Linked DNA regions of Homo sapiens. The protein of the gene in region 1 purifies or fractionates together with the protein of each later gene. This does not show direct contact. Each region holds a gene or a part of one and is shown on either strand. Other genes may lie near its edges.

What was found.
Region 2: the proteins of EIF2AK1 (region 1) and NAF1 purify together in Homo sapiens (affinity purification with mass spectrometry, with the first as the bait; one large-scale study listed by BioGRID). This does not show direct contact.
Region 3: the proteins of EIF2AK1 (region 1) and AP3B1 purify together in Homo sapiens (affinity purification with mass spectrometry, with the first as the bait; one large-scale study listed by BioGRID). This does not show direct contact.

Annotation. Positions count from the first base shown.
Region 1 is NC_000007.14:6,052,575-6,056,229, reverse strand, and holds part of EIF2AK1 (eukaryotic translation initiation factor 2-alpha kinase 1), read left to right. Parts: intron 1-1,525; coding exon 1,526-1,684; intron 1,685-3,655. UniProt on the Homo sapiens protein: Metabolic-stress sensing protein kinase that phosphorylates the alpha subunit of eukaryotic translation initiation factor 2 (EIF2S1/eIF-2-alpha) in response to various stress conditions.
Region 2 is NC_000004.12:163,156,826-163,160,480, reverse strand, and holds part of NAF1 (H/ACA ribonucleoprotein complex non-core subunit NAF1), read left to right. Parts: intron 1-2,153; exon of another isoform or gene 2,154-2,256; intron 2,257-3,655. UniProt on the Homo sapiens protein: RNA-binding protein required for the maturation of box H/ACA snoRNPs complex and ribosome biogenesis.
Region 3 is NC_000005.10:78,284,581-78,288,235, reverse strand, and holds part of AP3B1 (AP-3 complex subunit beta-1), read left to right. Parts: intron 1-3,655. UniProt on the Homo sapiens protein: Subunit of non-clathrin- and clathrin-associated adaptor protein complex 3 (AP-3) that plays a role in protein sorting in the late-Golgi/trans-Golgi network (TGN) and/or endosomes.

The DNA.
Region 1 (3,655 bases):
CCTCCACCTCCTGGGTTCAAGCAATTCTCCTGCCTCAGCCTCCTGAGTAGCTGGGATCACAGGTGCACACCACCACGCTCACCTAATTTTTGTATTTTTAGTAGAGACGGTGTTTCACCGTGTTGGCCAGGCTGGTCCTGAGCTCCTGACCTCAGGTGATCTGCTTGCCTCGGCCTCTCTAAGTGCTGGAATTACAGATGTGAGCCACCACACCCAGCTAGTTTTTTTTTTTTTTTTTTTTTTTTTTGAGACAGAGTTTCACTTTGTTGCCCAGGCTGGAGTGCAATGGCACGATCTCAGCTCATCTCAACCTCTGCCTCCTGGGTTTAAGGGATTCTCCTGCCTCAGCCTCCTGAGTGGCTAGGATTGATTACAGGCATGCGCCACCACGCCTGGCTAATTTTGTTTTTTCGTAGAGACAGGGTTTCTCCATGTTGGCCAGGCTGGTCTCGAACTCCTGACCTTAGGTGATCTGCCTGCCTCGGCCTCTCAAAGTGCTGGGATTACAGGCATGAGCCACTGTGCCCAGCTAGGTTTTTTTTTTTTTTTTTTTACCTGTTTAGTCATGTCTTAAATAAACAGTAAGTGAGAACTTAACGACCTTCAGCCTTAGTGCCAACTCGTCTGTCTGCATGGTCTCATACAGTGCAAAGAGGATGGGGTTCGGGAGTCAGTCTGATCTGCCTTGTTCACTGGTTCCTCAGCCTCTCTGAGATCAGTGTTTTCATCTGTAAAATGAGGATGAACACTTACCTTATATTATTTTTTGAGCATTGAAGGAGATTGTACATGTAGATAAGTAGCACACGCTCATCGAGAAAAGTTTCCATTTTTCCTATCTTTCCCTCTGTCATCTGCCCAACTTCTTTTTTTTTTTTTTTTTTTTTGAGACGGAGTTTCGCTCTTGTTGCCAAGGCTGGAATGCAATGGTTGATCTCGGCTCACCGCAACTTCTGCCTCCCAGGTTCAAGCTATTTTCCTGCCTCAGCCTCCTGAGTAGCTGGGATTACAGGCGCCTGCCACCACTGCCCGGCTAATTTTGTATTTTTAGTAGAGATGGTGTTGCTCCATGTTGGTCAGGCTGGTCTCAAACTCCTGACCTCAGGTGATCCACTGGCCTCAGCCTCCCAAAGTGCTGGGATTACAGGCATGAACAACCGCGCCCGGCCATCCTCTGCCTAACTTCTTTCTTTATGCCTGGGTCTTGGCTGTCTTCTCAAAGGAAGGAAGCCATCCTAGTCCCACTTCCTTGCGTATTGATTTATTTGTACTATTGGACACATCAGAAAACTGTTTCTCCTCTGTCTCACGGCATCTTTCTGCTGATCCTCCAGCTTCCAGGATTCAGCTCCAAATTCACTTCCAGAAAGCCTTTCTTGATTAACCCAACTCAGCATAACTATTCTTTTGGTTTTTATCTGCTTACATTTAAATATTTCATGTTTCATTAATTAGAATATACGGTTTTGTCATTATGAGACAGGTTTACCATTAATTTAAAAATATTTTCCTTTTTAATTTTTAGAATCTGATGTTCCAGCAGAAATCCAGGTGTTAAAAGAACCCCTACAACAGCCAACCTTCCCTTTTGCAGTTGCAAACCAACTCTTGCTGGTTTCTTTGCTGGAGCACTTGAGCCACGTGCATGAACCAAACCCACTTCGTTCAAGACAGGTGTTTAAGCGTAAGTAAGAATAAATGAATCTTGCTAAATAAAGCTTGTAAAGGCTGGGCTCCGTGGTTCATGCCTGTAATCCCAGCACTTTGGGAGGCTGAGGTGGGCGGATCACCCGAGGTCCGGAGATCGAGATCGGTTTGGCTAACATGACGAAACCCCCTCTTTACTCAAAATATGGAAATTAGCCGGGTGTTGTGGCAGGCACCTGTAACCCCAGCTACTCGGGAGGCTGAGGCGGAGAATCAGTTGAACTGGGGAGGTGGAGGTTGCAGTGAGCCGAGATAGCGCCACTGCACTCCAGCCTGGGTGAAAGAGTGAGACTGTCTCAAAAATAAATAAATAAAGCTTGTAAAAATACTGTGTTGCTGTTCTCACTTATTCATGGGAGGTAAAAATTAAAACAATTGAACTAATGGAGATAGAGTAGAATGATGGTTCCCAGAGGCTGGGAGGATAGTGGAGGATGGTTAATGGGTACAAAAATATAGTTAGAATAAATTGGATCTAGTATTTGATAGCACAGCAGAGTGACTACAGTCAACAATAATTTATTGTACATTTAAAAAATAATAAAAAAGATGGCCAGGTGCAGTGGCTCATGCCTGTAATCCCAGCACTTTGGGAGGCCAAGGTGGGTGAATCACTTGAGGTCAGGAGTTTGAGACCAGCCTGACCAACATGGTGAAATCCCATCTCTATTAAAAAAAAAATGCAAAACTACCCAGGCGTAATGGCACATGGCTGTAATCTCAGCTACTTGGGAGGCTGAGGTAGGAGAATTGCTTGAACCCGGGTGGCGGAGGTTGCAGTGAGCCGAGATCACGCCACTGCACTCCAGCCTGGGCAACAAGAGCTAAAGTCCATCTCAAAAAAAAAAAAAAAAAGAATGGGCTGGGCGCGGTGGCTCACGCCTGTAATCCCAGCACTTTGGGAGACTGAGGCAGGTGGATCATGAGGTCAAGAGATCGAGACCATCCTGGCTAACATGGTGAAACCCTGTCTCTACTAAAAATACAAAAATTAGCTGGGCATGGTGGCGGGCACCTGTAATCCCAGCTGTAATTTGGGAGGCTGAGGCTGGAAAATCATTTGAACCTGGGAGGCGGAGGTTGCAGTGAGCTGAGATCGCGCCATTGCACACCAGCCTGGCGACAGAGCAAGACTCAGTCTCAACAAAATAAAAATAACGAAAAGAATATAATTGGATTGTTTGTAACACAAAGAAGGGATAAATGCTTTAGATGATGGATACCCCATTTATCCTGATGTGATTATTACACATCACATGTCTGTATCAAAATATCTCATGTACCCCCATAAATATATACATCTACCATATACTCACAAAAATTAAAAATACAAAATAAAAATATGTTGTTTAATGCTGTGAGTCTGGAAAGCGTCTGGTATACAAAAATTGGAGTGAAATAAATATTAATGATTTCCCTACTTCAATTCAGCTTACATTTTTCTTTGAGTAATTCCTTACAAATATAACTGTGGATCCCATAATTGCATAAAATTGAATAAATGAAATATAGTTCTTTTGCATCTATACTATGATAATGCTCACAATTTTTTTTTTTCTCGAGATGGAGTCTCACTCTGTTGCCCAGGCTGGAGTGCATTGGCGCGATTTCCGCTCACTGCAATCTCCGCCCCCCGGGTTCAAGTGATTCTCCTGCCTCACCCTCCCGAGTAGCTGGGGTAGGCACGTGCCACCATGCCCGGGTAATTTTTGTATTTTTAATAGAGACGGGGTTTCACCATGTTGTTCAGGCTGGTCTCGAACTCCTGACCTGGTGATCCACCCGCCTCGGCCTTCAGTGTGCTTTGATCACTCCTGTGAGTAACCAGTGTGCTCCAGTCTGGGTGACATAGTAAGACTCTGCCTCTAGAGAAAAAAAAAAAAAAGAATAGTTCCAGCCAGAGATTCTGAGGTTCTTTTTTTTTTTTTTTTTTTTTTTACCAAAACAG
Region 2 (3,655 bases), on another chromosome or scaffold:
CAGTGAAATAACTTTATGATTGTTCTTAAACCTTAGAAAGATATAATTTTTAAAATTAGGTTATAACCAAATCTTGCCATCCCAAGATGTGGTTATAACCCAGTTTTTTGTTTTTGTTTTTGTTTTTGTTTTTTAATGTGAGGGTACGTTAAGGGGGAAGAGAATAAAAGAGGAATTAGCGAGCTATAGTGGCAATGAAAAAGGAGAGTCTTAAGTGGCTCTCTTCATAATGTCACAATTAATAAGTTTAACTAGATAAAATTATTCTTTTAAACATAAATTCTTTTTTAATGCTCAGAAGGTTTATATATAACCTACACAGTCACTGTAAGCAGCATACATATTACAGCTTTGGAACTACGTTGAGCCACATAGGATGTATTTAGTGTTTTGATGAATTGGAAAATTGAGATTCTTTTTAAACAATTTTATCAGCAGTTGATGCTCTGAACTCTTCATTCAAATGTATCAAGTGTAATTAAAAATGTAGGGTCATAAAAATATTTGGGATTATAATTTTTAAAGTCTTAATCAGAAATGAGTTTTATAAATTAGTGCCCATTGTTTTCTGAAAACCTGAAAGGCTTCACATAACATTTAAAAATTATTAGCACAATGTTTATGGAGATAAGAAATGGATAATACTTCAGTAGGGATAATAATGTGTCTTTAGGCATATAATGTAGCATGACCAAGAAAAAAATTAATGCTTATTGGCAATTTTGGGGGAAATTTAGCTGTCATACTTTGGTGACTGCTTATTTTATAAAATAAGTACGTTTGGTAGTTAGGTTGAGTACACTCTATTCTCCTGATTGTGGCAGTGTGGACACATTCTAAAATGTCCTAACGTGAATGTATGGAAATATCTGGACCACTCAAGTGGTTGGAAGTTGCAGTAGAATATTTCATGCCTGTTTGATCTCCCATCATATATGAAATTGTATTGCATCTTGGTCTACACTTAGTAATTATCAATTGAATATATTGTTTTCTAGGCATAAGTTGGTTTATAAATTTTGTCCTGAATGCAGGCCTCTTTTAACTTAGGTTTTTATTACTATATGTATATTTGGAACTATTAAATTCTATTTTAGAATACACTTTGATAGCACTTATTAACATTCTTCCCAAAGTGCTTGTTATTTAAGCAATGGTTTGTATACTTAAGATCATTTTTCATTAATATTCACTAGTGTTCTTCAAAAATAATTAATACTCAGGGTTTTTTAAATTAAAGTTTTATATCTTACAGAATATTTCAATAAAGCTTACATGAGGCATGAATGATTTCATAAACATGAAATAAATACTGTTTTATTCAGTAGAGTATCCATTTATGTCCTGTGTATATACATATATAATTATTATTACACAGAAACATTCAATTGTTTAGATTCCCCCATTCCTCAGTAGTTTCTAATAAGTGAATTCTGCTGATTGCTTTAGAAGATAAAGACAAATATCTGTTAAAGAGCAATGGAACTAGAGAATGAGCATATACACTTTAGCTGAAAGCAAAGTAGCACCAGAGAGTTAATGGTTGAATGTCAGATGAATGGTGTACTGCACATAAGAAGTGATAGGATTGAGTGGAAGGGGAGGTAATAAGGATTTCTGAAAAATTTAGGCTAATACTCTGTGGCATTTTACAATTATTTGGCAGTCTTTTTATCTTAGTGATATAAAATCAGTGTCTTAAAGTTGATGAAATATGCACTCAATTAACATGAAAGATAGGCTTAAAGTTATATTCATTGTTGGAGGTTTCTTATTGAGATGGACTATAGTTTTATATTTAAGCAAATTAAATTTTGAAAGTATTATGAACTTTGTTTCTCTTAACAGTAATTTTAGAGAAAAACAGGATAATAATGTATTCATTTAAAAAAGAAAAATATCAAGACACTTCAAAGAAATGTTGACCCTCATTTTTTAATTGACTTGTCTGAGTCTTAAGTTTAGTGTCATACACAATAGGGTAATTAATGAGGGGACTAATGCTTACTGGTGATAAATAGCTGAGTTTCATGGAAACTTGTAAAATTACTTCCCCTGAAGAAGTTAATGAATTAGAATACATGTTAAGTATGGTCATAGTTGACACAAAGTGTACAGACCTAATCCATTCTTTTTCCAATATGTTTTACCAGCTATAGAGAAAAAAAAAATTCAGTCATGGCTCTCAGTACTCCAGGGATTGGATCCTACTTTCCAACCATATCTGAAAAGTGAAGGCTCACCTAATAGCATCAGGTAATTGGCTGCCACGTGCATGTCCTGTGTTGGGTAATATGAGAAAAGTGGTTAGATAATTTCATCCCACCTTCCTCACTTTTCTCAATTCTCCCCAAACTGACACCAAAAAGGTTTAGTTTTCATTTGGAATGTTTGATTCCTTCTCCCACCAACCTCTGTTGTCCTTTTTCCATATTTGTGAGTGAAAATCCTACTGAAAGTTCTTTATATAATTTTACTTTAGAAAGTCATCAATTTACTGATACTCTTTTTTGCTCAATAAGCCTTCACAAATGCTTGAAAAGTCAACAGTGTTGTAAATTATAAATGTTACCTTTTCAGAGGGCCACTTTTGACATATTAGCTTCTTCCATTTTTGCATTGAAAGTTTTAGGCACCCATTTTTTGACTGGTATGTCTATAACCTCATTTTTAATAGGATGGATTTTTAATGTTATGTGGTACTCTTTTGAATATTTTGCTTAACTGAATAACCTTGTAGACCATACAGATGTTAGAAAATTAAAATATAATAATCTTACAAAACAGACAATAATTGCTCTTTCATGGATATTCCAGAAGTGTGGTTAGGATCTTGCATTTCTTTAATGCCATCGTTACGAGTATCTGTTATCACAGAAGCACAGTAATTTTTTTATTGGGATCTAGTATATAATTTCTGTATTAATGTGTTGTCTTTTTGATTACATGCAGTTGGACATTTAAATTGTCGTTAGCCATTTGTGTAACTGTTTAGAACTTGTGCTCAGTTTCCTTACTATTCGTAGGTAAGAAAAATGAAACCAGAAAGAAAGAGACTTGTCTGAAGTCATATTAGTGGGGAGGAGCAGATCTGAACTGGTAATAGATACATTCCAAACTGCTGTGTTTTTAGTATTTGTGGAGACCTGCATAGCAACGTTGGAATCTGGTCGTTTGGACTTTCTCATTATTTGGTTTCTGAATAATCATGTAGCATATTTTCTCAAAGTGAAGGATGAATGTATCATCTAATGTAAGCTTTTTAAAATTGTATTTGCTTGGATTATATTGCCTCTCAATAAAGCTTTTGACTTGGAACTGTGTAGTGTGTGGGAAATAAATGGTGGAGCTTCTTTAGTATGTTGAATTTTAGTAGTTCATTTGCGAAATGCTGTGGTGTTTGGGGATGTTTATTTCCATGCAAGCTTTTCATTTGCTAATGATGTGAATGAAATAGTTTTCTTCCTTTCCTTTCCTACTCTTTGTTATGTGTAGAAGTATTGAATAAATGAGTCCAGAAAAACTTTTTGCTGTTCTTTGATTTTTTGTTAGTAAACATTTACAAAAATTTCATTTGTATGATAAAATAGTTATTTCTAATGGCAGATAATGTACATCCAGAACAGGCTTTTAGTTGCATTTTAATTTTGGGAAA
Region 3 (3,655 bases), on another chromosome or scaffold:
GTTAAATTGTGTAATTCAACTTTTCAGTGTGGCATACCTATTGAAAATTATTTGTTATAAGCCTTTGTTTGTGTAAACAGTGATTTACTGAAGAAAATGGAAATGCTGGAATTTTGAAATGTTAAGGACATTTTAGTTTGAGACGTTGAAGTGTTGGTGCCCTGAGTCATAAGCATGACATGAAGAGGCACGGGCTCCTTCCTCATTGTGAATTCCTTTCTCTTGTGCTCAGGAGTTCAGGGTTGCTGCTATGAAAATATGCTTCAGTCATGATTTTGTCAGCATACTGTTATACATCTGATCATCTTTAGTTATGAAGATTTAAATCTCTTGTGTTCTAATAATTCCAGGTTTGATAACTGATCTGTCTTGTTTATTATGTTTAGCTAATTGAAATTTATGGTCATTAGATCTGGTACTAGAGCTGTTAACATATTTGCTTGCTACATATGTAAACTGGATCCTACTTTTTTTTTTTTTTTTTTACAAGGGGTACATTAAGTTATTAGGAAATTTTAGTATTTTATTGATTTTTCACTAAATTTCAGCATTTGTTCCAAGGTGACTAAAAATAAAAGAAGAAACTGTATACTAGCATCTGCAGTGCATTCCTAGCAGCTGAACTAGTTGTTTTTGTCTTCATAAAAATAAGATCGTAAGTTTTACAAAGGGCCAACTATTCAAATTAAGGATTGTCATTTCAGTGGTGCAGTAGGGTTCCATTTATGATTTAATTCTTGAAATATATTTCAAATTAAATAAGATTTTACTACATTGAATAGAAATTTGATGAAATACTGCCTGTAAACAGAGTCTTACTTTCCAACAGATTATAAAACCTTTTATCTTATTTTGCTTTGCTTGCATATCTCCTTGAAGGAGAGTTGGTTCTGACTTCTACATTTTGTCTTAATAAATATTCAAGAAAATATTCTTTCTTGACAGTAGGATATGTTATTTTTAAAATCACTGATCTGGTAAAATTTGAGGAGAAAAATCTGAAAATTAAATTTCAAGCCTTACCATTAAATCATAAGATGTGAGATTTTATGTTATTTAAAAAAAATTTAGTATTTGGAGCAACATTACCAGAGCTGAATGATTAAAGCACATGAAAAAGGCAGACAGATGGTTGGTTGAAATGTTCTTTTTTGCTGCATGAAAAGTTATAAATGCTCATAGAATGACAAATGTATTACAGTGAAATAATTTGACAGTATTTCACTTGTGTATATAAATGAACTACTGACAAAAACAAATTGCCTGCAGTCCAAATTCAAAATTTAAAATGAAGAGCTTAAAGTAGAATAATCAAGAAGGAAATGATTTTCCTCTATTTCATATTATTATGAATAACGTTGGTTCGTGTATTTAGAGAAGGCTTATTTAGCCTATCAGCTGGAAAGACTTAATAGATCTACAAAAGTGAACAGTTTATAGCCAATATCTGTTTATTGATGGACTGATTATTTATATTGCTGATAGGAACCAGCCTAATTAGAAGTCCACTGTCTTTAATTCAGCTGAGTGAGTTGGCATGGTAGCTGGACAAATGAGAGAAGAATGAATAAGGCCCTGTCTCAGTTTGTTTTATGCTGCTATAACAAAAAACCTGAGACTGGGTAATTTCTAAAGAATATAATTTTATTTCTCACATTTTTGGAGGCCAGGAAGTCCAAGATTGAGTCACAGGCAGGTTTAGTTTCCTGGTGAGGGCTGCTCTTTGCTTCTAAGATGGTCTGTTGTTGCCGCATCCTCTGGAGGGGAGTAATGCTGTGTCCTTACTGGGCAGAAGGTGGAAGGGCAAGAGAATGGAAGACTGTGAAGCCTCTTTTGCAAGGGCCTTAATCTCATTCATGAAGGGAGGAGCCCTCATGACTAAATCTTAAAGGCCCCACCTCTTAATGCTATCATATTGGCCATTAAGTTTGAACATCTGAATTTTGGAGAGGACACATTGAAACCATAGTAGGGTGGTTCCAAAATCATAGGTTGGCAGAGCTAGGCATCACCCAACTTTATTCTTGGAATGGGTTTTCTGCAAGTTTTTAAAGCCTAGGTTGAGAATGTGGTCAAGAAGGATGTGGGGGAAATTAATTAGTAAAATATGAGGGCAGAGAGATAAGGGGCAGAGTGGAAGGCGGAGACCTGATTGTGTAGGGCCTTGTAAAATCATTGTTAAGGTCTTTGATTTTACTCTGAGTGAGAAGGGATGCCATTTGGAGAGTTTTGAGCAGAGGGGTGAAATGATTGTTTACCCTTTAAAGGGACATTTTGCCTCTTGAACTAGGAGTGGACTGCAGATTTGAGGCAAGGACCAGCAAGGAGACTATTACAGTAATTCAGGCAAGAGAAGGTGATCCGATTGGTGGTAGTGGAGAGAAGTGGGTGAGTTATGGATATATTTGAAAGGTAGAGCCAATGAGATTTGCTGATAGTTTGGATGTGATATGTGTGTGGGAGAAAAGATATCAAGGGTGGATACAAAGTTTTTTGCCTACACAGCTCGAAGTTTGGAATAGCTGTCAACTAAAATGAAGAATATTGTGCAAAGAGGAATTTTTTTTTAAAGGGGGAAAGGGACCAAGAGCTTGTGCATGTTAAGTTTGAGATGCGATTAGGCATCCATGTGGAGATACTAAATAGGCAGTTGGATATCAGAGTGTGGAGCTTAGAGGAGGAGTCAGGCTAGAAGTATAAATTTGGGAGTCATCAGGTATCATGGGATTGGATGAGACACTGAGGAAGTGAGTGTAGAAAAAGGTCAGAGTCAGTCAGTCCTGGGACATTCCTGGAGTAATTGTGTCAAATAATACAAATAGGTCAAGTAAGATGATTACTGAGAAGGGAGTTTTGGATTTGTCACTGGGTGGACTTTGGTGACCGTGACAAGCAGTTTAGGTGCACTGGTGGGGCTGAAAGCCTCATGAGTGGGCTCAAGAGAGAAGGAAGAAGAAGAATTGTGGTTAGTATTTTTTTTTTTTTTTGAGACAGAGTCTTGCTCTGTCGCCCAGGCTGGAGTGCAGTGGCGTGATCTCGACTCACTGCAAGCTCCGCCTCCCGGGTTCACGCCATTCTCCTGCCTCAGCCTCCCGAGTAGCTGGGACTACAGGCGCCCTCCACCACGCCCAGCTAATTTTTTTTGTATTTTTAGTAGAGACGGGGTTTCACCGTGTTAGCCGGGATGGTCTCCATCTCCTGACCTCATGATCTGCCCACCTCGGCCTCCCAAAATGCTGGGATTTACAGGCGTGGGCCACCGCGCCTGGCCATTAGTATATTTTTAAGTATAGAAGAGCAGAGAAATGGAGCAGCACTTGGAGAGGAATGTTATGTCAAGGAATTTTTCCTTAAGGTAGGAGAAACTGTATTATCTTGTTTGCTGATGGAACCAACTGATGTAGAGGAGAGAAAATAGATGATGCATTAGAGAGAAGGAAAATTGCTGGAGAATTGCTGATATCCCCTTTTTCTTCTAGAAAACTTACAGATACAGGTTAGCTGAAAAATAACAACCCTAATTTCAATATCCAGAAGAAATCGGTTAATGTAGTATATATCTTTTAGCCTTTTTTCTTTTGCATATATATTTATATGTATGTATGTGTATATCATGTGTTTTTAGAGCAAAGCTATATGCTTTTATAATATGACA